3 separate regions of the Homo sapiens genome follow, and regions 1 and 2 are each linked to region 3. Evidence: fine-mapped expression QTL. A gene starts in region 3. Each other region holds a variant in brackets. All regions are shown on one strand. Distances are between the middles of the regions.

Region 1 (8,192 bases), 33 kb after region 3:
CAAGACAGAAAGTTGTAAAGAAATAATAAGAGACATAAAGGATATATCAAGAAGGTACAACAGCGAGCAAGTAGTTATGCCAGAAAGAAAGAACACGGGGAGTTGAGGGTTCTAAATTATCTAAGAAGCAATATAAAAATATTTTTCAGAGCTGAAAGAAAAGTTTTTTTAAATAGAAAAGACTCATATCTAGATCCTGATTATGAAATATGAGAACACTAAGGATGAAGAGGAAAAAAAGTTATTTCAGCAATAGAATTATTATTAAAAGCATAAGATACTGTGAAAATAAAGGAACAGTGTCTTTGGATTGTTGAAGAAAAATAATTTTCCTTCTTCCCTTTATTTTTTCCTCATTTACGTCTATCCATCCATCCATCCATCCATCCATCCATCCATCCATCCACCCATCCATCCATCCATCCACCCATTCATCCATCCATTCATTCATGTATCCGTCCGTCCATCCATCCATCCATTCATGTTTCCATCCATCCATCCATGCATCCATCCATGTATCCATCCATCCATCCATCCATCCATCCATGCATCCATCCATGCATCCATCCATGCATCCATCTATCCATGCTAACTCATCTTTCCTGGTTTTTCTTTCATAGTCTATGCATTCCTGAGCTGTTTCCTTATAGCAGTTGCTGTGTGCATTATAAACAGATCTGTCAAATTTTTCCTCTTAAATCCAAACAATATTATTTGTTCTTCTAGTATGACATTTGTTTGTTGGACTGTTTTTAGATCTGTATTGGAATTTTTGTCCTTGTGGTTTGTTTTTGCCAAAATATATTATTATAATGAACATTATACTGAATCTTGCTTTTTTTTCTTACATAATGTATCATAAACAGTGCACAATGTCAATATGGAATTAATTAACTCTACTCATTCGCTTTCTAATAGTCACTTGTAGGGATTTACCACAATTTATTCATCCACTTGCTCATTAAGAGTCATTCCATTTTTTTCTAATCAAGTTCTAGTCTCTTCATGTAGTAGAGGTTCAGAGAATTAAGTGGCCAAAGTGGGAACCTGGAAAGATCCAAATAATTATAGTGTATTTCAGGAGATTACACTGCATGACCCTCTCCACTCAATCAACTTTCTACACAATATCCCATTTCTACACAATATCCCATTTCTACATAGATCTTATCACTGCGTATTTGCTTATCGCTGGAAAACACCCTCCAGAGGTAGCAGCTTAGCTTTCCCTCTAGAGAGAGGTACATGAGTTACACACAGTGCAAGGATATATTTTCCCTCTTGGACTTCCAACTACTTTTAACTCATGTTTACTTCCCAAGCAAGTGACTAGAATGACAAACTCCACAGATCTCTATCTTGTTTTTAAACATAACATACAATCCTGACTTCCAAACAGGTAACCTTAAGTATATACATAGAGCTTACCTGAGTGAGAGATGATGAATTGTAATTTAATTTTGCTTCCTAAGCTAATTGCATAAAGCTATATGCTACCTTTTTTTAAACCTGAGCTTTATCTACTCAATAGATAGAAAGACACGTTTCAGTGAGCACTATATTACTTTGCAGTGTGAGAAATAAGTGCAAACACATCAGTTTTATTTTCAAAGCCAATTTTATGAACCATGAGCTTAATCAAAAAGACATTCACTAGAGTCTACAATAAATACTTTAAATATAAAAATATGGTATTTGAGAGTAATATTGGCTTTGTCTGCAGCAAGACTAAAATAATGTCCTTTTCTTTAAATTCACCACTGTTTTCAGAATTTTTGGCCACAATTTAAGTATTAATGTTATCACATTAATTGTCTTTTACAGAAATTAGTAAATTGATTTAAAAATCTAAGCACATTTATTTTCACCTATAGTTTTTTTTATTGCTCACTAATAAGCTTTTTTCCAACCACGATTTCAGCCATTGTATTAATTTTGATTGATTCCACAGATAATAGAAATAAGTGTTTTTAGTTGTAAGTTTTATTTTCAGGAAGGGTGAGTGAATGCTACATTTTCAGTGACCTAGAATTTTTTCTAACTAAGACAGAACTATTACAAAATAAGACGCACAGGTATCACATGTTCAGATTGTGAGTTTCAGACAATTGTATAATATGTGTACTACTACCCCAAATAATATGCAAAGCATTTGTATTCCTCCAGGGAGTTCCCTCATGCTCCTTCCAGTCCATTCCCCACCCTTCCCTTCTCATCTCTCCCCAGGCAGCCACTATTTGATTTCTATAATTTCTATAAAAGATTAACTTTCTCTGAATTTAGATTTCAAACACGGTAAGTGAAATCACAGAGCACATACTCTTTATTTACTTAACACATTTTTGATACTCAACCATGTTGTGGTGTATCATAGTTCATTCTTTTTATTGTTAAATATTCTATTATATGAATATTCTATAATTTATTTAATATTTTTTGATGGACATTTGGGTTATTTCCAGTTTTTAGATATTTTGAACACAGTTGCTGGACATATTATTGTACAAGTTTCTCTGTGGACTTAGGTTTTTTTGTGTTTTGGGCAAACACTTAGTGAAATTGCTGGGTCATAAGGTCAAGTTAAACATTGCAGGAAATTGCCAAAATGCTGAGAAGTGACTTTTCAACTTTATACTCCAAGCAGCGGTGTACAAAAGTCATAGTTGTTCTATACCCTTGCCAATGTTTGCTGTTATAATGCATCCCATGATAAATGTTATTTCCTGGTTCTTCTTCCTGTCTTTTATTTTATACTTTTCCAGTTTCTCCTACTTTAATTGATCCTACACTGTACACCAAGGCTCACTGTTCTAAGGCACAGCTCTTGTAAGGTAATAGCTCAAAGTCTTCTTATGGTTTCCTAGTCACAACCTTAGCCTGACAGTGAAACTTCTCTGTGATCTGATCCTTACGTACATCTCTAATTTTATTTCCCAATCTCCCATATGTAAATTCCACACACCCTGCATTCCAGCCAAACTAGCTATAGCTGACTGTTTCCTAACCTGTTCCCCAGTTCTTGCCTCTCTGCTTTTTTCATGCTATTCTTCACCATCAAGTCCTTCCCTACTATGTCTAATCTCTGCAGCCTATTTCTCCAGAGTCTCGGCTCAAATTGTAACTTGCTATGATGCTCACTGCTCCAAACAGAAAAATCAAGCTTCAGAATCCCTATAGAACTGAATTTTTGCCTTTGTGTTAGGCCGTTTCACCTTCAACTTTTATTAGAGTTCATTTTCTCTATGCCTTTAGGTCTCTTCCTAGCTGTAAGCTAGTTGGTGAGGATAACACTCCATTTCTTCCCTGCTCATAGCAGGCCCTCAATAGCTCTTAACTGAAGGAATGAATAAGCCGAGTGAGTTGTAAGTGGGAATGGCGAGTGCTGTTTATTACCAGTGGTGGCCACTTATTTTTAAATGGCTATTATCTGGGTGTGGAAAATGAAATACACACCCTACCCTCCTCCCAGCCTGTCATGTTCATTGCCTGATAAGTATGTGAGCCGAGGATATCTACTGAGGTGAAAGTCTGAGCTTTGTTGTTTCCATTTTTGGTTTGTTTGTTTTTTTCCCTCTGTCTGCCAGCCCCTCTCTTCGCATCACTGTAGGAAAGGAATCAGCTCTGAATCTTAGTTTCCCAGCTTCAGGGGCTAGTGGGTCTGTGGAAATAGTAGCTGTTGAAAGTAAATACTTTTCTGTCTTTTGAGAAAGTCTAAACCAGCGGTTCTCAAACTTT[T/C]TGGCCTCAGGACCCCTTGACACTGTTAGAAGTAACTGAGGATCCCAAGGGGATATATTCACACAGGTTTTTATCTATCAGTGGCTTTGTGTTTGTTTTATGAATCTCTTTAATAGCTTAAAGAAGACAGCTGGATTCTCAGGTCTGCTCTGTGTTCATTCATTCTATCCTGGTATCACATTATGTAGTCTCTGGAAAACTCCACTGTACACTCCTGAAAGAATAAAAAAGGCAAATGGTGCCTAACATTATAATATCAATATTTTTGATCTCTCAGACTCTCTGAGAGGGTCTCAGGGACCTCAAGACTTCTTGGATCACGTTCTGAGAACTGCTGGCTTAATTTGAAGAGATTGTGATGTCCGTGGCTGGAGTGAGTATAATGGGGAAGGGAAGATGCCTTTAAGGAAGAGAGAAGGGTAAACTTTTTCTTTACTGGAAAGGGACCTACATCCTCTGGGTGGCTACATTCTGGGAAGCAGCCAGTGCTTCATGGGGTATGGTCATGAGGTCCATCTGAGAAGGCTAGGTTGGGGTTGGTTATCAACCTTGGTAAAGCCTCCCAGCTCCTAACTAAGGCCTGAAATCTCAGCGGTGTCAGGCTCCAGGAAGCAGGATGGCTTTGGTCCAGGAGCATCTCACTTGTGACCAATGTTGACTAGAAGGGCCTCTTCAAGTGTGCTCAAAATTTAAGTTTTCAGGAAGCCGAGTATGGCCTCCCAGAAAGTTTTGAAACTTTTGAAGGCAATTTTGGTTAATTAGGAAGGGTGTGCTCCTGGCATTGAGCCATTTAGCTCTGTGCACTGAAGATGGTAAACACCTCCAATGCACAGATCAGTGTCCCACAGATTTTCAGTGGCCCCAGGCATTCATGAGGATAAAAAGCTTGCTTATAATCTTTCTGGTTTGGAATCTAATTCTGTATAACAAATGAAAAAAAAGCATTTTTTGGCATAATTTTCATATACCTTAAATTTTTCAGAAATAAATCATTATGTGAATCATGGGAAATTCTACTTGTTTTGTTTGGAATGTTATCCAGATTATTTTACCATTTTAGAAAATAACATTAAGGCAGCAATACTTATGGTAATTGAGCCACCACTACTACACACCTGGACTCATCTGCCTTTGTAGCTGTGGCATTATATGTACAGATACAACCCTCATATCATTGCATTATATCTTCAAATTTAATCATACTTGATTATTTGCAAATTTATATACATTTATTTTTATTAGACATTTGTCTTATGTTTTATTTGTATTATAGTTTAATATATTGATGGTTTTAAAGATTTTGTGTCTAGATAGGTCATGTGATCTATGAATTTTATTTCAACATTGTAGGGAACATTAAAATAAGTTTGGTACAAAAAAAGTGGTGAATCTGAATCTGATAGGGAACCCTAGAAGGAGGAAACTGAGGAGGGAACCCTAGAAGCTTCGTATGACCTTAGGTGAAGGCAGGTTGCAAGTGAGAGAGAGCACCAATAATGACTTCAGTAGATACAACATTGGTTTATTCATGTTTTCCTTCAAAAAATACATTATACTGAAAGAACATAACAAAAAAAGAAAACTACAGACTAATATACCTGTTGAGTACAGATGCAAGAATCCTTAACAAAATAATAGCTAACCGACTCCAACAGCATATCCAAAAAGATAATCCACCATGATCAAGTGGGTTTCATACCCGGGATGCAGAGATGTTCAACATACACAGCCAATAAATGTGATATACCACATAAACAGAATTAAAAACTAAAATCACAAGATCATCTCAATAGACACAGCAAAAGCATTTGAGAAAATCCAGCATTGCTCTATGATTAAAACCCTCAGCAAAATCGGCATAGAAGGGGCATACCTTAATGTAATAAAAGCCATCTATGACAGACTCACAGCCAACATAATACTGAATGGGGAAAAGTTGAAAGCATACCCCCTGAGAACTCGGACAAGACAAGGATGCCCACTCTCACCGCTTCAATTCAACATATTACTGGAAGTCCTAGCAAGAGCAATCAGACAAGAGAAAGAAAGGGCATCCAACCAGTAAAGAGGAAATCAAACTGTCACTGTTTGCTGATGATATGATCATATACCTAGAAAACCCTAAAGGCTCCTTCCAAAAGCCCCTAGAACTGATAAATTAATTCAGCAGGCTTCATGATACAAAATTAATGTACATAAATCAGTAGCTCTTCTATACACTGACAGCGACCAAGCTGAGAATCAAATCAATAACTCAACCCCCTTTACAATAGCTGCAGAAAAAAAATACTTAGGAATATACCTAACCAAGGAGGTGAAAGACCTCTACAAGGAAAACTACAACATACTTTTGAAAGAAATTTTAGATAACACAAACAAATGGAAATATATCCCATGGTCATGGATGAATAGAATCAATATTGTGAAAATGACCATATTGCCAGTAGCAATCTATAAATTCAATGCAATTCCCATCAAAATACCACCATCATTCTTCACAGAACTAGGAAAAAAAAATTCTAAAATTCACATGGCACCAAAAAGGAGCCTGCATAGCCAAAGCAAGACTAAGCAAAAAGAACAAATCTGGAGTCATCACATTACCTGACTTCAAACTATACTGTAAGACCATAGTCACCAAAACAGCATGGTACTGGTATAATAGGCACATAGACCAATGAAACATAATAGATAACCCAGAAATAAAGGCAAATACTTACAACCAACTCATCTTTGACAAAGCAAATATAAACATGAAGTAGGGGAAGGACACCCTAGTCAACGAATGGTACTGAGATACTTGACAAGCCACATGTAGAAGAATGAAACTGGATCCTCATCTCTCATGGGATATAAAGATCAACTCAAGATGGATGAAAGACTTAAATCTAAGACCTTAAACCATAAAAATTCTAGAAGATAACATTGGAAACACCCTTCTGGACATTGGCTTATTCAAAGACTTCATGACCAAGAACCCCAAAGCAAATGCAACAAAAACAAAGATAAATAGTTGGACTTAATTGAACTAAAAAACTTCTGCACAACAAAAGAAACAATCAGCAGAGTAAACAGACAACCCACAGAATGTGAGAAGATCTTCCCAATCTATACATCCCACAAAGGACTAATATCCAGAATCTACAAGGGACTCAAACAAATAAGCAAGAATAAAACAAACAATCCCATCAAAAAGTGGGCTAAGGACATGAATAGATAATTCTCAGAAGAAGATATGCAAGTGCCCAACAAACATATGAAAAATGCTCAATATCACTAATGATCAGGGAAATGCAAATCAAAACCACAATGCGATATCACCTTATTCCTGCAAGAATGGCCATAATAAAAAAATCAAAAAATAATAGATGTTGGAGGGAATGTGGTGAAAAAGGAACACTTTTACACTGCTGATGGGAATGTAAACTAGTACAAACACTATGGAAAACAGTGTAAATATTCCTTAAAGAACTAAAAAGCAGAGTTACCATTTGAACCAGCAATCCCACTACAGGGTATCTACACAAAGGAAAATGAGTCATTATATGAAAAAGATATTTGCTCATGCATGTTTATAGCAGCACAATTCCCAATTGCAAAAATGTAAAACCAGCCCAAATGCCCATCAATCAATGATTGGATAAAGAAATTGTGATATGTCTATATCTGTACCTATCTATATACCATGGAATACTACTCAGACATAAAATTGAACAAAATAATGGCATTCACAGCAACCTGGATGAAACTGGAAACCATTATTTTAAGTGCAGTAACTCAGGAATGGAAAACCAAACATCAGATATTCTCAATCATAAGTGGAAGCTAAGCTATGAGGTTGCAAACACGTAAGAATGATACAACAGACTTTGGGGACTTGGGGGACAAGGTGGGAGGGGGTGAGGGATAAAAGACTACACATTGGATACAGTGTACACTGCTCGGGTAATGGATGCACCAAAATCTCAGAAATCACCACTAAAGAAACTTAGTTATGTAACCAAACACTACTTGTCCCCCAAAAACCTATTGAAGTAAAGAAAAAAAACCACAGTGAGATACCATCTCACACTAGGCAAAATGGCTATTATTAAAAAGTCAAAAAATAACAGATGCTGAGGAGGTTGCAGAGAAAAGGAAATGCTTACACACTGTTGGTGGAAGTGTAAATTGGTCCAACCATTGTGGAAAGCAGTGTGGCAATTCCTCAAAGGGCTAAAACCAGAACCACTATTCGGCCAAGCAATCTCATTATTGGGTATATACCCAGAGGAATATAAATTGTTCCATTATAAAGACACATGCATGCATATTTCACTGCAGCAGTATTCACAATAGCCAAGATATTGAATCAACTTAAATACCCTTCAATGATAGACTGGATAAAGAAAATGTGGTATGTATACACCATGGAATATGATGCAGCCATAAAGAGAATGAGACCATGTCTTTCACAG
Region 2 (8,192 bases), 66 kb after region 3:
CAAACATATTCCTCTCCTGGTCAGAATATGAGTAACTGACATTTGTTTAACAATCACAGCTTTAGCCTCACCATCCCATTGCTTTTTTTGTTTAAGATTTATCAAGATAACCAATCATGGAATTATCCCCACTTCCTAATAGCATCCAATACAAAGCAAAACTTTGCTTTATGAATTATCTCTGAAAAACTTTACATAAGCCAAAATCCTATAAGTCTTTTCTAATACTTGCTTATTAATATTGCATTGTTTTCTTTAGGGTCTTTGCCTGTAAGGAATTGACAGAAATGCAGGTTCACCAGGATTCATATGAAACATTTACTGTCTTGGGCTGGAAGCCTTGACTCAGTAAGAGTGTGTACATTTGTGATCTCTTGTGTGTTTACATATTAAGGTATCAAATTGTCCTTGGCTGATTGCTAAGTTAATGTACAACTAAGCTCCAATATTTTATTTAAGCATTTCTGTGTTTTGTTTATTTTCCTAATTATGAGGTCCTCTGGTACTTTTGTTTGTCTGATCAGCTTTGTTTTTTTTCCCCTCAGTGAATTTGTTTTCTGTCCTAACACCAGCTTCTGTGGTCCTTCTGCTTGTTTAGGGTTTTGTGTGTTGCTTTTCTATTAGAAGAAATTTCTTTGGGCACAAATTTGCATAGTTTTGATTTTTAAAAAGTGAACAGAACTTTAGAAATCTGTATGACAACGCTGATAGAAACTATATATGCGTAGTGAGAGAGAAAAGAGGAGAGAAAGAAGAAAAACTATTTTCAAGAAAACAAAAACACAATCCACAGACAGGAAGAAACCATTTGCAAATCGTATATTGGATAATAGACCTGAATCCAGAATATATAAAGAACACTTAAAACTCAACAATAAGAAACCAATTCAAAAGTGTTCAAAAGTATTTTGGTAGATATTTCACCAAGGAAGATATAAGAATGGCTTATGGGCCTATGAATGATCTACATTATCATAATATTATGAGCCATTAGACAATTCAGATTGAAACCTCAGTGATATACTACTGCGTACCACTAAAATGGCTATAGTAAGACAGACAGAAGCAAGCGTTGGTGAAGATGCAGAGAAACTGGAATCCCCACACATTGCTGGTACTAGTATAAAATGGTGCAGCTGCACTGGAAATAAGTTTGGAAGTTTCTTAAAAAGTTAAACCTGCCATGCAACCCAGGAATCTGTTTAAGAAAAATGAAAACATGTTGATACAAAGTCATCTGTGAATGTTTCTAGAATTGATATTCATAATAGGTCTAACTGGAAGCAATTCAAATACCCATCAATGGTGAAATAAATGTGGTATATCCATACCATGGAATACTGTTCCATAATTAAAAGCACACTACTAACATATGTGCTAAAATATGGATGAACCTCAAAAATATGGTGCTAAATGAAATCAGCCAGAGGAAAATAGCCTATGTATTATATAATTGCATTTATATGCAATGTCTAGAAAAGGCAGGTTTACAGAGACAAAGCAGATCAGTGTGTCTAACTAAGGCTGGGGATGGAAGACAGGATTGACTGCAAATGGATGTGAAGGACCTATTTGGGGGGTTATGAAAATGTACCAAAACGGGACTGTGGTGGTGCTTGCACAACTATAAATTTACCCAAACAATTCGAATTGTACACTTGCAGAGGATATATTTTATGGTATGCAAATCATATCTAATTAAGTTGTTTAATATGAAAAGAAAGAAGCAGAAAGTTATTCTCCAGCCTGGGTGACAGAGTGAGACCCTGTCTTAAAGAAAAAGTAATTAAGTCATGTTTCTTTTAGTGGACAGTTAAAAGCATATTTACATAGTAAGCTTCTGTTTCTATAGTTATGAGCTAAGAAGTAATGGCTTTGGGTTCAACATGAGAAGAGTTTTTGATATAACTGGTTTTAAAAAATCAGTTTACAATATACACATAATGCCACGAACTATTTTTGTTTGTTCAGCAAGAGGATAAAATTTCTCATGGTTTCAATTTTATAAATTTCCTATATTAGACTTATAAACAAGCAAGTTTATAAATAAACTTATTAAAAAGTTACCACTGATTGCATAACTTGCTTAAAATACAAAGTTGTATGAATTAACTGTATTCAACTAAATGAAATGACAATAATGGATATATTTTTAATTAATTTTTTTTATTTCCACAGGTTGTTGGGGAACAGGTGGTATTGGATTACATGAGCAAGTTCTTTAATGGTGATTTGTGAGGTTTTAATGCACCCATCTCCTGAGCAGTATACACGGAACCCAATTTGTGGTCTTTTATCTTTCATCCCCTTCCCATCATTTTCTCCCGAGTTCACAAAGTCCATTGCATTATTTTTCTGCCTTTGCATCCTCATAGCTTAGCTCCCACTTATGAGTGAGGATATCTGATGTTTGGTTTTCCATTCCTGAGTTACTTCACTTAGAATAATAGTCTCCAATCTCTTCCAGGTTGCTGAAAATGCTATTAATTCATTCGTTTTTATGGCTGAGTAGTACTTCATCATATACATATATAAATACACCACAGTTTCTTTATCTGCTCATTGATTGATGGGCATTTGGGTTGGTTCCACAATTTTGCAGTTGCGAATTGTGCTGCTATAAACATGTATGTGCAAGTATCTTTTTCATATAATGACTTATTTTCTTCTGGGTAGATACCCAGTGGTGGGATAGCTGGATCGAATGGTAGTTACGATTTTAGTTGCTTAAGAAATCTCCGTACTGTTTTCCATAGTGATTGTACTAGTTTTTATTCCCACCAGCAGTATAGAAGTGTTCCCTTTTCATTGCATCCACGCCAGCATCTACTGTTTTTTGATTGTGGCCATTCTTGCAGGAGTGAAGTGGTGTCACATTGTGGGTTTGATTTGCATTTCCGAGATCATTAGTGATGTTGAGCATTTTTTTCATATGTTTGTTGGCCATTTGAATATCTTCTTTTGAGAATTATCTATCCCTATCCTTAGCCCACTTTTTGATGGGATTGTTTGTTTTTTTCTTGCCAATTTGTTTGAGTTCATTTTAGATTCTGGATATTAGTCCTTTGTCAGATGTATTGATTGTGAATATTTTTCCTACTCTGTCAGTTTTCTGTTCACTCTGCTGACTGTACCTTTGGCTGTGCAAAAGCTCTTTAGTTTAATTAAGTTCCAGCTATTTATTTTTGTTTATATTGCATTTGTTTTTGGTTCTTGGTCATGAAATCCTTGACTAAGCCAATGTCTAGAAGAGTTTTTTTGATATTGTCTGCTAGAATTATTATAGTTTCAGGTCTTAGATTTAAGTTCTTGATCCATCTTGAGTTGATTTTTGTATAAGGCAAGAGCTGATGATCCAGTTTCTTTCTCCTACGTGTGGCTTGCCAATTATCCCAGCATCATTTGTTGAATAGGATGTCCTTTCCCCACTTTATGTCTTTGTTTGCCTTGTTAAAATCAGTTGGCTGTAAGTATTTGGGTTTAATTCTGGGTTCTCTATTCTGTTCCATTGGTCTATGTGCCTAGTTTTATATCAGTACCATGGTATGTTGGTGACTATGGCCTTATAGTATAGTTTGATATCAGGTAATGTGATGCCTCCAGATTTGTTCTTTTTACTTAATCTTGCTTTGGCTATGTGAGCTCTTTATTGTTTCCATATAAAATTTAGGATAGTTTTTTCTAGTTCTGTGAGGAATGATGGTGGTATTTTGATGGGAATTGCACTGAGTTTGTAGATTGCATTGCCAGTATGGTCATTTTCTCAATATTGATTCTGCCCATACATAAGCATGGGATGTTTTTCCATTTGTTTTTGTCGTCTATGATTTCTTTCAGCAGTGTTTTGTAGTTTTTTTCTGTGGATACTTTCACCTTCTTGGTTGGGTATGTTCCTAAA[G/T]GTTTTATTGATTTATTTTTTTTACAGCTATTGTAAAAGAGGTTTAGTTCTTGATTAGATTCTCAGCTTTGTTGCTGATGGTGTATAGCAGAGCTACGGATTTGTGTACATTAATTTTGTATCCTGAAACTTTGCTAAATTCATTCATCAGTTCTAGGAAGTTTGGGGGGAGCCTTTAGGGTTTTCTAGGTATATGATCATATAATCAGCAAACAGTGAGAGTTTGACTTCCTCTTTACCCATTTAGATGTCCTTTATTTCCTTCTCTTGTCTGAGTGCTCTGGCTAGAACTTCCAGTACTACGCTGAATAGAAGTGGTGAGAATGGGCCTCCTTGTCTTGCTCCAGTTCTCAGGGGGAATGCTTTCAACTTTTCCCCATTCAATATTATGTTGATTGAGGGTTTGTTATACATGCCTTTTATTCCATTAAAGTATTCCCCTTCTATGCTGATTTTGCTGAGGGTTTTAATCATAAAGGGATGCTGTATTTTGTCAAATACATCTGTGTCTATTGAGATAATAATGTGATTTTTGTTTTTAATTCTGTTTATGTGGTGTATCTCATTTATTGGCCTGTGTGTGTTGAACCATCCCTGCATCCCTGGTATGAAACCCAGTTAATCATGGTAGATTATCTTTTTGATATGTTGTTGTATGGGTTAGCTAGTATTTTGTTAAGGATTTTTGCATCTATGTTAATCAGGGATATTAGTCTGTAGTGTTTTTTTTTTTTTAATCATGTTCCTTTAGTGTAACGTATTTTTTAAAGAAAATCATGAATAAATGAATGTTGTATCTATTGAGTGACTGGGGTCTGCCAGCACTATGGTCATGCCCCATAACCACAAATGAGGCTTCTGGGGTGGAAGGTTGCCTTAGGAAGCTCTCTTCAGTCATGGTAAACATTTACTTGTTAGTTTGCCGCTATCAGCTGAAATTCTCCTTAGTAAGAATGGCAGTAGAAAAGGATTTTGAAAAACTAGAATATGGAAGTTGCCATGGATCATCCAGTTCTGGGTTCCATGACTTTCTGTAAAGGGTCAGATAGTAAATATACTTGGTTTTGCAGGTCATATGGTTCCTGTGTCAACCACTGGACTTGGAAGTTGTAGCATGAAAGCTTTCGTAGACAGTACACAAATGAGTAGGCACAGCAGTGTTCCAGTAAGTTCATTTTCATAAAATGTACAGGGCCAGATATGTCGTGCCTGCAGTAGTTGCTGAACACTAATCTAACAGGATCCCTCTATATATTTTTTAAGAAAAAAGACAGTAGTATGCCAGCAAGGCCTATGCTCTTGGAGTGGTCTAGAGGAAGAGCTAAACTAAAAAGGCAGAAACAAAATGTGAGAAATTGGAATAAATAAATCACAAAGGGAGTAAACTTTGAGGGAATCAATGAGTATATCATGTTTTGATTGGAGCCTTTATTGAACTCAGCCCTCTGCTGCTGAGTTTCCCCACCAAGAAAAGACATACTCAAAATAATATTTTAAAACACACACACGGCCGGGCGCGGTGTCTCACACCTGTAATCCCAGCACTTTGGTAGGCCGAAGTGGGCGGATCATGAGGTCAGCAGTTTGAGACCAGCCTGGCCAACATAATGAAACCCCATCTCTACTAAAAATACAAAAAAAAAAAAAAAAAAACAAAAAAAAACACAAAACATTAGCCAGGCGTGGTGGATTACAGGCTTCTGCAATCCCCGCTACTTGGGAGGCTGAGGCAACAAGAATCACTTGAACCTGGGAAGTGGAGTTTGCAGTGAGCCAAGATTGCACCACTGCACTCCAGCCTGGGCAACAGTGCGAGACTCTGTCTCCAAACAAACAAAGCACACATACACACACACACAAACTTTTTATCTTGATTTGAACCCAAAGAAAGACAAGTGTGTGAAAAGACTTTTTGGACATGGAAGATCACTACTTAACATGTATCTAATGATATAGCCTCATTGTTTAATTCTATTAAATATTTCTAATTCTAATAAATATTTGTTGCATGAATCTAAATGTAGTGTGCCATAGTATGACTTTGCAAACAGAAAATAAGCTAAACATCACTTTTAGGAATTCCCTGTCAGTTGATGGGGAGAAAACAATGCCTATTCAGTGGAATTCAAGTGGTGGTCTGTGGACCATTGCTGCATGGTGAATATTCAACTACTGTCCTGGGAGAGGATTAAGACAGTTGTTGAGAGTAAGTGTTTCAACACTTTTAGTGCAATTTGACTGTGCCAAAGCAAGTGGACTTGCTTTATTGAAAGAGTTACAGAACAGGTCAAATTCACATGATGAGTCACAAATGGCAGGAACTATGTAATTGTTGAGCACAGTAGGGGCATGTTCTGAAATAATTAGTCAGATTAAGAAGCTTGCGATAGATTATAAATCAATGTAATGTTTGCTTCATTGAGAAATTTTTGTTATATATAGAAAAGCAAAAAATCTTGTTGAACTAAACATTATGCTTAGAGAAATTGTAAAATGTAATCATTCCATAAGGGTAATAACTTTAATTTTTTTATAGGCAATAATGTGAAAGCTGACTAAAAACAACTGTTAATGTATGTGGAAGTACATCTTTATTGAGGGTAAAAGTTTGGTGGAGAACTGTTGAACTATAGAACAATCTCAGTGTTTCCAAGGTAAGCAACCAATTTGATATTGACTTTAAGATGAAATTGGACAACGAATCTTTCTCATTTGTCTAGTATTTTGGATATTTCAATTATCTTAATATTGCTTTGCAAAAAAAAACATGTCTTTTCACAGCAGATAAGGTTGAAGGGCAAAATCCTCAGTTAGAAGCTTGGAAGAATACAATTTCTGCAGACAAGTTCCATGACTTAACAACAATTATTAATGAAGTGGTTGGTGATCTTGATATTGGACATCTGCCAAAATTTATTATCAAATCCTTACAAATTTGTACAACATTTTGATGTTTTTCTGTCAAAAGAAGATCAATGCCTAATATTAATGTATCCCTCATTCCTTTCATTGAAAGATAATTTAGATATCCTCTTACCTAAGTTAGAATGACTATTATTAAAAAGACAAAAAATAACAGATGCTGGTGAGGATGTGGAGAAAAGGGAACTTTTACACACTACCGGTGGGAATATAAATTAGTAAAATCAAAAAATAGAACTACCATATGATTCAAAAATACCACTACTGGGTATTTATATAAAGAAAACAAAATCAATATTTCAAAAAGATATCTGCACTCCCATGTTTATCGTAGCACTACTAACAATAGCAAAGATATGGAATCAACCTAAGTGTTCGTCAATAAACCAATGGATAAAAATGCAGCGTATACACACAATGGAATAATATCCAGCAATAAAAATAAGGAAATCGTGTCATTTGCAGCAGCATGAATGGAACTGGAGTTCATTAACATAAGTGAAAAAAGCCAGGCACAGAAAGACAAATATTACAAGTCATCACATATGTGTGGGAGCTAAAAATGTTAATCTCCTGGAGGTAGAGAAGAGAATAATAGATACAAGAAGATGAAAAGAGTGTGTATGGCAAGGGTGCGGGAGATGGACAGAGGTTAGTTAATGGGTACAAACATACAGTTAGATAAAGGAATAAATTATACTGTTCAATATCATAGTAGAGTGATTATAGTTAACAACAGTGTATTGTCTTTCAAAATAGCAAGAAGATTTCAAATGATAAACACAGAACATGACACATACTCAAGGTAGCAGTTGCCCTAAATACCCTGTCTTGACCATTATATATTGTATGCATGTAACAAAATATCACATGAATCTCATAAATATGTACAAATATTATTTATCCATAAAAATTAAAAGTATCATTTACTTTTAATTATAATTTTACAGGAAATTTATTTATCTGATTATTGCTGAAGGATTGAAGTACATTTTGAAAACATCACTCGTTTCCTTTGGGATAATGGCTAAAAAATTATTATCATTGCGATTGCTGACATTTCTCAAAAATCAATTGCTATTTCAGTCAAAATTTTACTTTAAATTGGTTGTTAAAGGACAAAAAGTAGCAACCACAGTAGCAATTTTCTGAATTAACCTCTTGCGAGTATATATAAAATATATATAATATATAATTATATATAATAATACATAATATATAATTATATATAATATATATATTATATATAAAACATGTTTTCATCCATGGTTGTTGGCATAACTCCCATAGTCTTCTGTTATAATGTTGGAGTGCTTTAAGTCTCAGGAGCAGACCTCAGAAAATATAATCTCTCTCTCTGACCTTCCCCTGC
Region 3 (8,192 bases):
ATAATGTGGCTTAATCCTTTCTCTTCTTCCAGCATCTGCTGAGCACCACCTCAGCCACAGCACTGCTTCTCACTGTCTGCGATGAAGGCTCACTGAATTGAGAAAAGTCTCTCAAAAGTCACATGACCTATTGTGCCTCACAGCTTCCTGGAATGCTTCATGACCTTTCTTATGCCCTTTACTAGCAACTCCTACATTCATCTCTGGAGTTCCTTTCCTGTCTTTTCCTCATTTGCCCCTCAGGAATAAGCTCCCTATTTTTTCTGCAATTATAATGTCTCAAGGTTCAATTTGAGTCTTCTCTGCTCTGAGAAGCTGTCACTGACCACCCCAACTTGTGATTTCCTAGAACATACTGAAAAAGGAACTGGCTTTGGAGCAACTTGGATTTGGGCTCAAATCCTGGCCATGCTGATTGTGATTCTTCAGAAGTTCCTTAGTGATTTATCTTTCCCCATCTGTATAATGGACAGTATACTACCACTTCATGGGGCTGTTTTGAAGGTACAGGAGATGCCTGCCTGAAGTGCTTAGCCCTTCCTGATACATAGCAGAATATTGATATTTATTATTATTTTTGCTCTTCTCCAACTTCTAGTACTAGTATCTATACCACTCATTTGTACTCAAGTTATGTCTGCTTTATGGCAGCTCTTGTCCTTGCACTAGCATTTAACTTTGATGTGATTATTTTAATGTTGATATAAGCTTTCTCCTAACAGATAAATTGTAAACTTCTTATTTATCTTTATAGGTCCTAAGAATAACAGATGCTTAATAAGTATTGGTGAAAAAAAAGCAACCACCTGTTAGGGCTCATAACCTATACCTGGTAATATTACAACATTCAGGTCAAGAACTCAATAAACCTTGAATTAGAGTAACTCTAATCCCCAAACATTTTTGTTTTCCAGGAAAGGGATGATTAGGAAAACTTTACAATTTTTTTTTCATCCTGCAGGTTTCGTTTAAGAGAAGAAAATGCAGACTCTATCCTCTTAAGAAACTACTTCTGGGAAAATGCAATGGAGACACAAGGTCTACCTTCCTAGGTTTTGGTTTTCCAAATAAAAGTTTATGGTCAGGTCAAAAATAATTGCTGGGAATTAAAAAGCAATTATGTGGATAATAGTTGCAAAGTAATTATATAGAATTAAGTAAGGAATAGGAAATTCCTATTCATTAGGAAGAATTTTAATTCAATAAAAATTATAAGAAATATCAAGTTTATAGATTAAGACTTTAAGCACCCATCTGTCTGTAGTGTGGATATGCTCATGAAGAGGGAGAACAAATCCTCTAGTATGATAGTGTCCTGTTACAAGTAAAAGGTAGGAGGCCATGTTGGGAATAAACAAATAAATGGACTTAGTCAGTGATGAAAACCAGTTTTTGTGCATTCTCAGGACATATGAGGTTTAAAGAAAAAAAAAAAACAGGAAAAATAGTCAGGCTCCATAAAAGCTCCAGAAAGGAACTCTAGAAGGTTTCTAAGAATGGAAAGGCTCTGGTCCTTGCCAGCCTTGAGACTGGGGCAGCAAGCCTGCTGCAGGCTGGAGCAGGGATGGCAGCCTACGCTGGACCAGGGGGAAGGAGGACTCATGAGCACCGCCTAATAGTAATTTTCATATGTTTGTTATGCCAGGGAACCCTTTGTCAACAGAATCTTGTAGGGTCCCCTAATGTATAAAAGAGATAACTGTGTTGCTGTGTGGTTGCAAATAAGTGGGAAGAGAAAGGGTGGGAGGATCATTGGAGGGGCTGGTAGGATCTTAGATGCTGCGGCAGAAGACGTTAGGCCAGGCAGAACGTGTTTGGGAGACCAGCAGCCTAGGATTCTGTAAGCCTTTGCAGACTGCTTCTATCCACAGGCAAGGCTTTTGGTCTAGGCCTAGTTTGTTAAAGGGTCCCAAGGATCAAAACTGGTGGCAAAGGAACTTGAGAGTAAAGACAACTTCGTTCCCATCATGGAGGGGACAATAAGCCCTCGTTTGCCCTATTACACTATGATCTCAGCCGGGTTTTTTTTGTTCGTTTGTTTTTCTGAAAAATATTTTTTAAGCCATAATTGAGGCTCTCAATGAAAGCCAATTGTAGCTTAGTGACACCTAAATATGTCTGAGACAAGAGGCTCTGGATGGCCCTTCAGGAAGGCAACAGCAGCCCTGATGTTTTCGACCGTTCTTAGGGAAGCCTCAGTGTCCAAGGATATTTACAGTCTTGCAGCTGCACTTCATAATGAACCTTTAGAATCCTGGGTTTTATCCTTACTTAGGAGTGGTTATAACTGTCTAAGTTTCTAATCTCATACCTCGAATGTGATTATAAAACCAAGATAAAATAAATAAAAGGGAGAAAAGTTAAGAAGGAATCTCTTCCCAGATGAGATCCCTCAGGGTCAGAATAATCACAAGGGTAAGTAGATGAATAGCTTGTGAGTTACAGGCATTCCAGAGGCAAGGATCGTCTTGAGTAGTGGCCTGAATTGATATTTAGTGATGCATAAGTGGTGGATATTACTGCAATTTCCTTCATACAACTGACAGGAGTTGAGCACCTTCTCTTCACATTGCTCCAGGTTTCAGATCCTCAGGTGGGACAGGCCAGTTCTGAGGTTTCTGATAGACACCTCCCAGCGTTGGACAGTGCCTTTTGTTAAGAGGGGAATGCTTTTGGGGACCACAGCCTGTTTACACACAACTCAGGCTCTAGAGCTCCTTTAGCCTCTTCCAATTGCACACACGAATGTAATTCACTGAGAGGAGGACTGGCCCCAGCCAGACCCACCTGTCCTGTGATCTTAGAACAATCTGCCTTTCCTGTGGGTGGATACTTGCTCTCTGGATGATCAAATGATGGAAGATTGCATGGGGCTCCCTGTGCCACTTCTCTTTCCAAACAGGAGGCTACCTGTTTGACTACTTGGGCTTGCTCCTCAGGCAGATGAGCTCACTTCTGCTGCTCAGAGCAGAGTGACACGGGATGTCCTGTGGGGAGTGGGGAACTGCCTTACATAAGGACCTCACAGACCCAGGCTCTCTCTTAAAACAAGCTGACAACTTTCCTCGAGTTCCTCCTGCCTAGGACACTCTGCAAACATCCCGGTGCAATAAGAGTGAAAAAAAAAAAAAGTGTCAAGTTGGAAAATACAAGTTTGTTTTAAAGATGCTGTTCTGTTTTCTGAGAGCAGTGTGTCACAATCAGCCCTGCTTTCTGAAGTGTTTTGGAAAAGAATGTCTGTGACGTCACATTTCAAAGAAATACTGTGGCCTCAAATCAAGTAGTGAGCTAAAACAATGCTCCACTACACACCAATAATAACTCGCCTTTCAAACAGTGATGCATTTCTCATGGACCTGGGAAGAATGCCATCTCCACCACATAATGTCAGCAAAATGTACTTTCACTTCCTCTTTTTCTTCTGAAGCATGACGGTTGTAGCAGGTCTCTTGGACAAAAATATATGCAAAGAGTTGGAACTTTCTTAATTCTTCCCTCCCCGCAAAATGCTTGAGACAAAAGTCTAGTAGGTACATTTGTATTTTAGGGAGCCTGAAGCTGTGTGAGTCTGTGTGTATCCTCTTTTGCATACAGAAGACATTTTCTCCTTAATCCACACCTAAACTTTTTGGTAGCCAAGCACTTTCTATTAACAGAGTCAACAGTCAAAACATGTAAAAACCCTTCATAAGATGAACTCTAAGTTAGGACAGCCTCAAATATCTTCACAGAGAAATATTGAAACGTTCAGGTAATTCAGAGAAGAGTAGGGGAGAGTGCCTCTTACCTGGGCTTCCTTCACTATTCCATTCTTTGTGCAGTTTCTGCTTTGTGAGCCATTGCTCTGTTTCTTGTGATTGTGAAGTTTCCCGTTGCAAACAGCACCACCTCCAGGGTTAGCCATGGGTGTGAAGTGACAGAGCCCGGGACAGGTTTTCCTTCAGAGGTCTCTGCAGGCTTTAGTTTTCAGTCTGCGAGGGGATGGGATAAAGCTCTTTGGGGCTGAGCCCTTAAAGGAATCTTACCAATCAGGCTTTTCCAGAAGAAGAGCAACAGCCTATCTTTTTGTCAGATCGTTGAAACTAAAACAAATGGTTACCTTTATACTTCTCAACTCCCGTCAAAATGTGAACTCCATGGCAACAAACCTGCTTCCGAAACTGTAAAGGAGATTGTCCATGCTGGCTCCTTCTGGGGACTGAGGGAACCTGGGGACTGAACAACCCAGTGGCAAAGTGTGAGGAGGCGGGCTGGGAGGTGGAGAGTCTTTTAAAGACACACACACACAGCACACTCACAGAGTCTTCTAAGTAACTGAGTTCTGAGTTAACCTCTTTTTCCCACCCCCTCTCTCCTGCATGTAATTGTGGTTTTTGGTTGTAAACCAAGCTCAAAAGTTAATATTTCTTTTTGCTATAAAATAGCATTCAGAGGTGGTTGCCAGGGCCTGGAGGGATGAGGCAAAGGGAAGTTATTGTTTAATGGGTACAGAGTTTGAGCTGGAGCAGATGAAAAAGGTATAGTGATGGATCAGTGCACAACAATGTGAATGTACTTAAACTAAACTGTGCACTTAAAAATGATTAAAATGGTAAGTTTCATGTGATGTATACATTTCCATAATTTACAAATGATTTGAAAAGATTTTTAAAAACCCAGTATTCAAAACCAACCTATGTTAAAATCAGTACTATAATAAGGGGGTACCAATCCATCAAGAATTCCAGTAAGACAGATGTTGAGGAGACAGAATATTTGATGACTGCGTTATCTTTATCTCGTGACCTTGGGGGAGGTATTTACCCACTTTATGCCTCAGTTTTTCCATCTATAAAATATCTGCTGAGGTAGAACAAAAATCATGCTGTAGCTTGGGTTTGTTACTGACGCAGGTGTGAGGTGGTTGATGACTGCAGGGTCCCAGTCCTGAAACACATCTGGTTTACTCACTAACTCTTATTCTCTCAATGCATGAATCTTCAAGGCTTTGTTTCTTCCTACCATCATCAAATGGCATGGTGACATGATTTGCTGGAGAGTCATTACAACCTGTTGAGTCTTCCCAAGTCCACCCTTGTGGTTTTCCTGAGTCGAGACTTCTTTAGCATCAGACTCTAAGAAAAGAAACCAATTTATTGGGGCAGTAGACAAAAACAAACAATCAAACACACACACACAAACAAAAAGAAAGAAATGGCCCCTGTTTCCAGAGCCTCATGTCCTGTAACTCAGCTCCCTTGGACAGGGTTCAGTTCTACTCCAGATTAATGTAGCTTTTGGAGGTGGACATGCTAACGCTTCTCCTAACTATGACTTGCATATGAGGGTACCTGCCTTTACCATCCCAAGGAATGCTGGAGGAATAAGATAAGGCCTGAGGCCAAGGTGAAAGACGGAGTTAATACCAAGTGTGTTCAGCCCAGTTTGTGTCTCAAGTTCAAAAATTTTATCGCATTTCTCTCAACCTTTATCATCAAAGTAGAAGTAGATTTTCACTGGTCTCTCCCTTCCATGGCTGTTTCACTGAGATTTGGGGGCTAAACTCTTGTAGGTTTATTTTCTTCTAAGATTTAGGAAATGGAGAGATGAAGAGGTAGAGGGGAGCACTATTGTTGGCCCAACTGCCTCACGTTACTTAGAAAGACAAGTTGAAGAGAGGGCGTTATTTTCCCTGAGCTCTATTGCTCAGTGCAAAGCATTTTTTTAATAAAGATTTTGAAATAAAACTTTTTTAACATTAGATGTCTCTTTTCTTTCTTCTTTTCTTCTTCTCCATCTCTTTCCTCTTTTCACATTTGTCCTTTTCCCTTTCCTCCCCCACCCTCCTCTTCTTTTTCTTCTTCTTTTTCAAATTTTCTTTTTACAAGGGACAAAAGGTATATATAAAATAAATCTTAAAACACAGCTGAATTCTGCTTTCTCCGTTTCCTTCCCCTAATTGCAATTGCTAAGGTTAGGTAATCACACATAGATTTCTGAGAAATATCTACTACGTGCTCTCACTCTTGAAACTTTTCTATTTTACTTACCGTATTGGAATGTGTGCATTGTTGTGTGTACAAAATTATATTAACACACCAACCATTTGGCATCAGGCACTGCTGGTATGTATAGTCAGTGGTGACTCATTGCTTCATACCATCTCCAGTTAAAATAAGCGAAGAGTTCTGTTGAAGTCAGTGGTAGGTTTAGGTTTAAGGTTTGGAGCAATACTAAAACACAGACTAAATATTGAGCAAGATTTGGCATCTCTGAACAACTAAATACATTTTGGATCAACTAGTAACCTCAGAAAATGTTTGAATAAGTACTCTGTATTTGCTGAGTCCTTGGTTCTCACAAGGAATAAAACATACACAGTCTCCACCTTCACAGAACTAAGACTCAGCAGTACCCACATGCCTTCTACTTAGGATATCTTACTATTAAAGGTAGAAATAAATCTTCCCACTAGTACATTAAAGGCAAAGATGATAAAATTAGCAATGGCCTTGTGGTGTTCTCCAAAGTAATGGTTTTGCCCAGATGCCAGATTCTCAGCTCCTCTCTTAATGAAGCAGCCAAAAAGGGAGATAACAGAATGAGGATAGGCAAGAAAGGGAAGGACAGAGGCTTGGCAATGTGTTGTGAAAACGCTCTTGGAACAACTTGGGGATAGAGAGTTGGCAAAAATGGGAGGATATGAGCAGAATGAACTGTCAGAATTGTACAGTGTACAGAAATCTGTTCATTCTCAGTGACTCAAGTTTTACCCATGTAATGGAGAGTGATGCTCATGCAAAACTAAATTTTCAACAGGTTAAGTGACTTTTCCAAAGCCACAGAATAATATGTGGTAGAAGTGGGTCATGAACTCAAGAATGTCTGGGTCTAAGTGAGTGCCGTTTTCCTTACACCATGACACCTCTCCTTCAGCTGTTGACTTGAGAACCATCAACCACCAAGAAAAGAAATAACAGAATCTGTTATTATTTGGGAGATTTCATTGGATTGGCCAAATAATGAATAAAAATGCTTTATTTGCTTTTTGATGTTTAAAAATTTGCAATATATTAAATTTTTTTACAAATGACTAATGACATGTCAATATCTACTAATAAGTCTACGTGGAAGTACTTAAATTTCCCGAAGAGTTCAATCTGGAAAAATTCTCATCGTAGAGACCATTCATTTCCATAGATTTCCCCATGAATAGGTTGTAAACGTGATGACCTAAGAAGGCCAGCCGCATGTGAGTTAATATTAAATTTGAACTGACCAATAAGTCATGAAAATTATCTGAGAAAACCCAGAAAGTGATCATGTCAATTTATCTGATATCAGGTGGAAATTATAACTCTTAATCAAGATCAAGTTAATTTTAGTTTTCACACTTTTGGGTTTTGCACACTGTTGTGATTGGAAAATCCATGCATAGCACATATTTAACATCACATATCTTTGCCCTGAAATAGATCATACTGACACAGTCAGTCCCTCATTCATATCCTTTTGACTTAGCTTGGAGGTCCCTGATACACGGTGTCAGCTGTTTTCTGTGTTTCTATGCCCAAGCAGGTTCTCTGACCATGGGGTATTCTCTGCTTCTGCAGTGTGGGCCAGGTGTGCTGGGAAATTCACATCCTTGAGAGCAACTCTCAGCCAACAAGGGACAGAAGTTGGTGCATAAACACCCCATGTTATTTTCTTCTTTATGGGACAATTCTGAGGCATGTTCACAGCCTCTGGAGAGATCCCAATGGGACTGTGGCTCTGTTGCCCTCAGTAGTAACCCTCTTATAAAAACACCCATTATTAAGTTTTCCTCCCTTCCTGGTTTTACTTATCCATGCTTCCTGAAAATACCCCCCAATAAACTACTTGCACCTAAATCCTTGTCTCAGAGTCTGTTTGTGGGAACCCAAATTAGGGCAACCAAGTCCATATTAGCCCATCAGATCTTATTGATCAGAGATCAAATTGGATCTTTTGAATGATCAATATTAGACTGTTCTGAAGATTGAGAGAGATATCATGTAGAAAAACTTAATACATTCATTTGGGTAAAACCTCATAAATTCTAGAGACAGACAGAAAATGTGTACTCTTGTGTCTCCCATAGGGAAGATTTGTGGAATTTATATAAGAAGAGGGTGTCTACAATTTAGTTGGGGAAGAAAAGTCATTAACTTTGAGTTATAATATCATAAAAA

What was found. PIP is the estimated chance that this variant, and not a neighbour inherited with it, causes the effect.
Region 1: its variant is the best candidate, but not a certain one, in a credible set for the expression of SPTLC3 in whole blood (TOPMed, PIP 0.66).
Region 2: its variant is the best candidate, but not a certain one, in a credible set for the expression of SPTLC3 in blood mononuclear cells (TOPMed, PIP 0.52).

The regions. Positions count from the first base shown.
Region 1 is chr20:12,972,207-12,980,398 of GRCh38, reverse strand. No RefSeq gene overlaps it. Among named protein-coding and RNA genes, the nearest start is that of LINC01722, 24 kb to the right of the region's middle. The variant T/C (reference allele first, on the strand shown) is at 3,736.
Region 2 is chr20:12,939,179-12,947,370 of GRCh38, reverse strand. It overlaps LINC01722 (long intergenic non-protein coding RNA 1722), which reads left to right. Exons shown (of 12, transcript NR_109868.1): 3 at 2,179-2,227; 4 at 6,435-6,552. It overlaps LOC105372535 (a long non-coding RNA gene), which reads right to left. Exons shown (of 5, transcript XR_937274.3): 5 at 6,467-6,856. Among named protein-coding and RNA genes, the nearest start is that of LINC01723, 7.1 kb to the left of the region's middle. The variant G/T (reference allele first, on the strand shown) is at 3,899.
Region 3 is chr20:13,004,980-13,013,171 of GRCh38, reverse strand. SPTLC3 (serine palmitoyltransferase long chain base subunit 3) reads right to left here and starts at 4,200. Exons shown (of 12, transcript NM_018327.4): 1 at 3,788-4,200. The coding sequence starts at 3,904.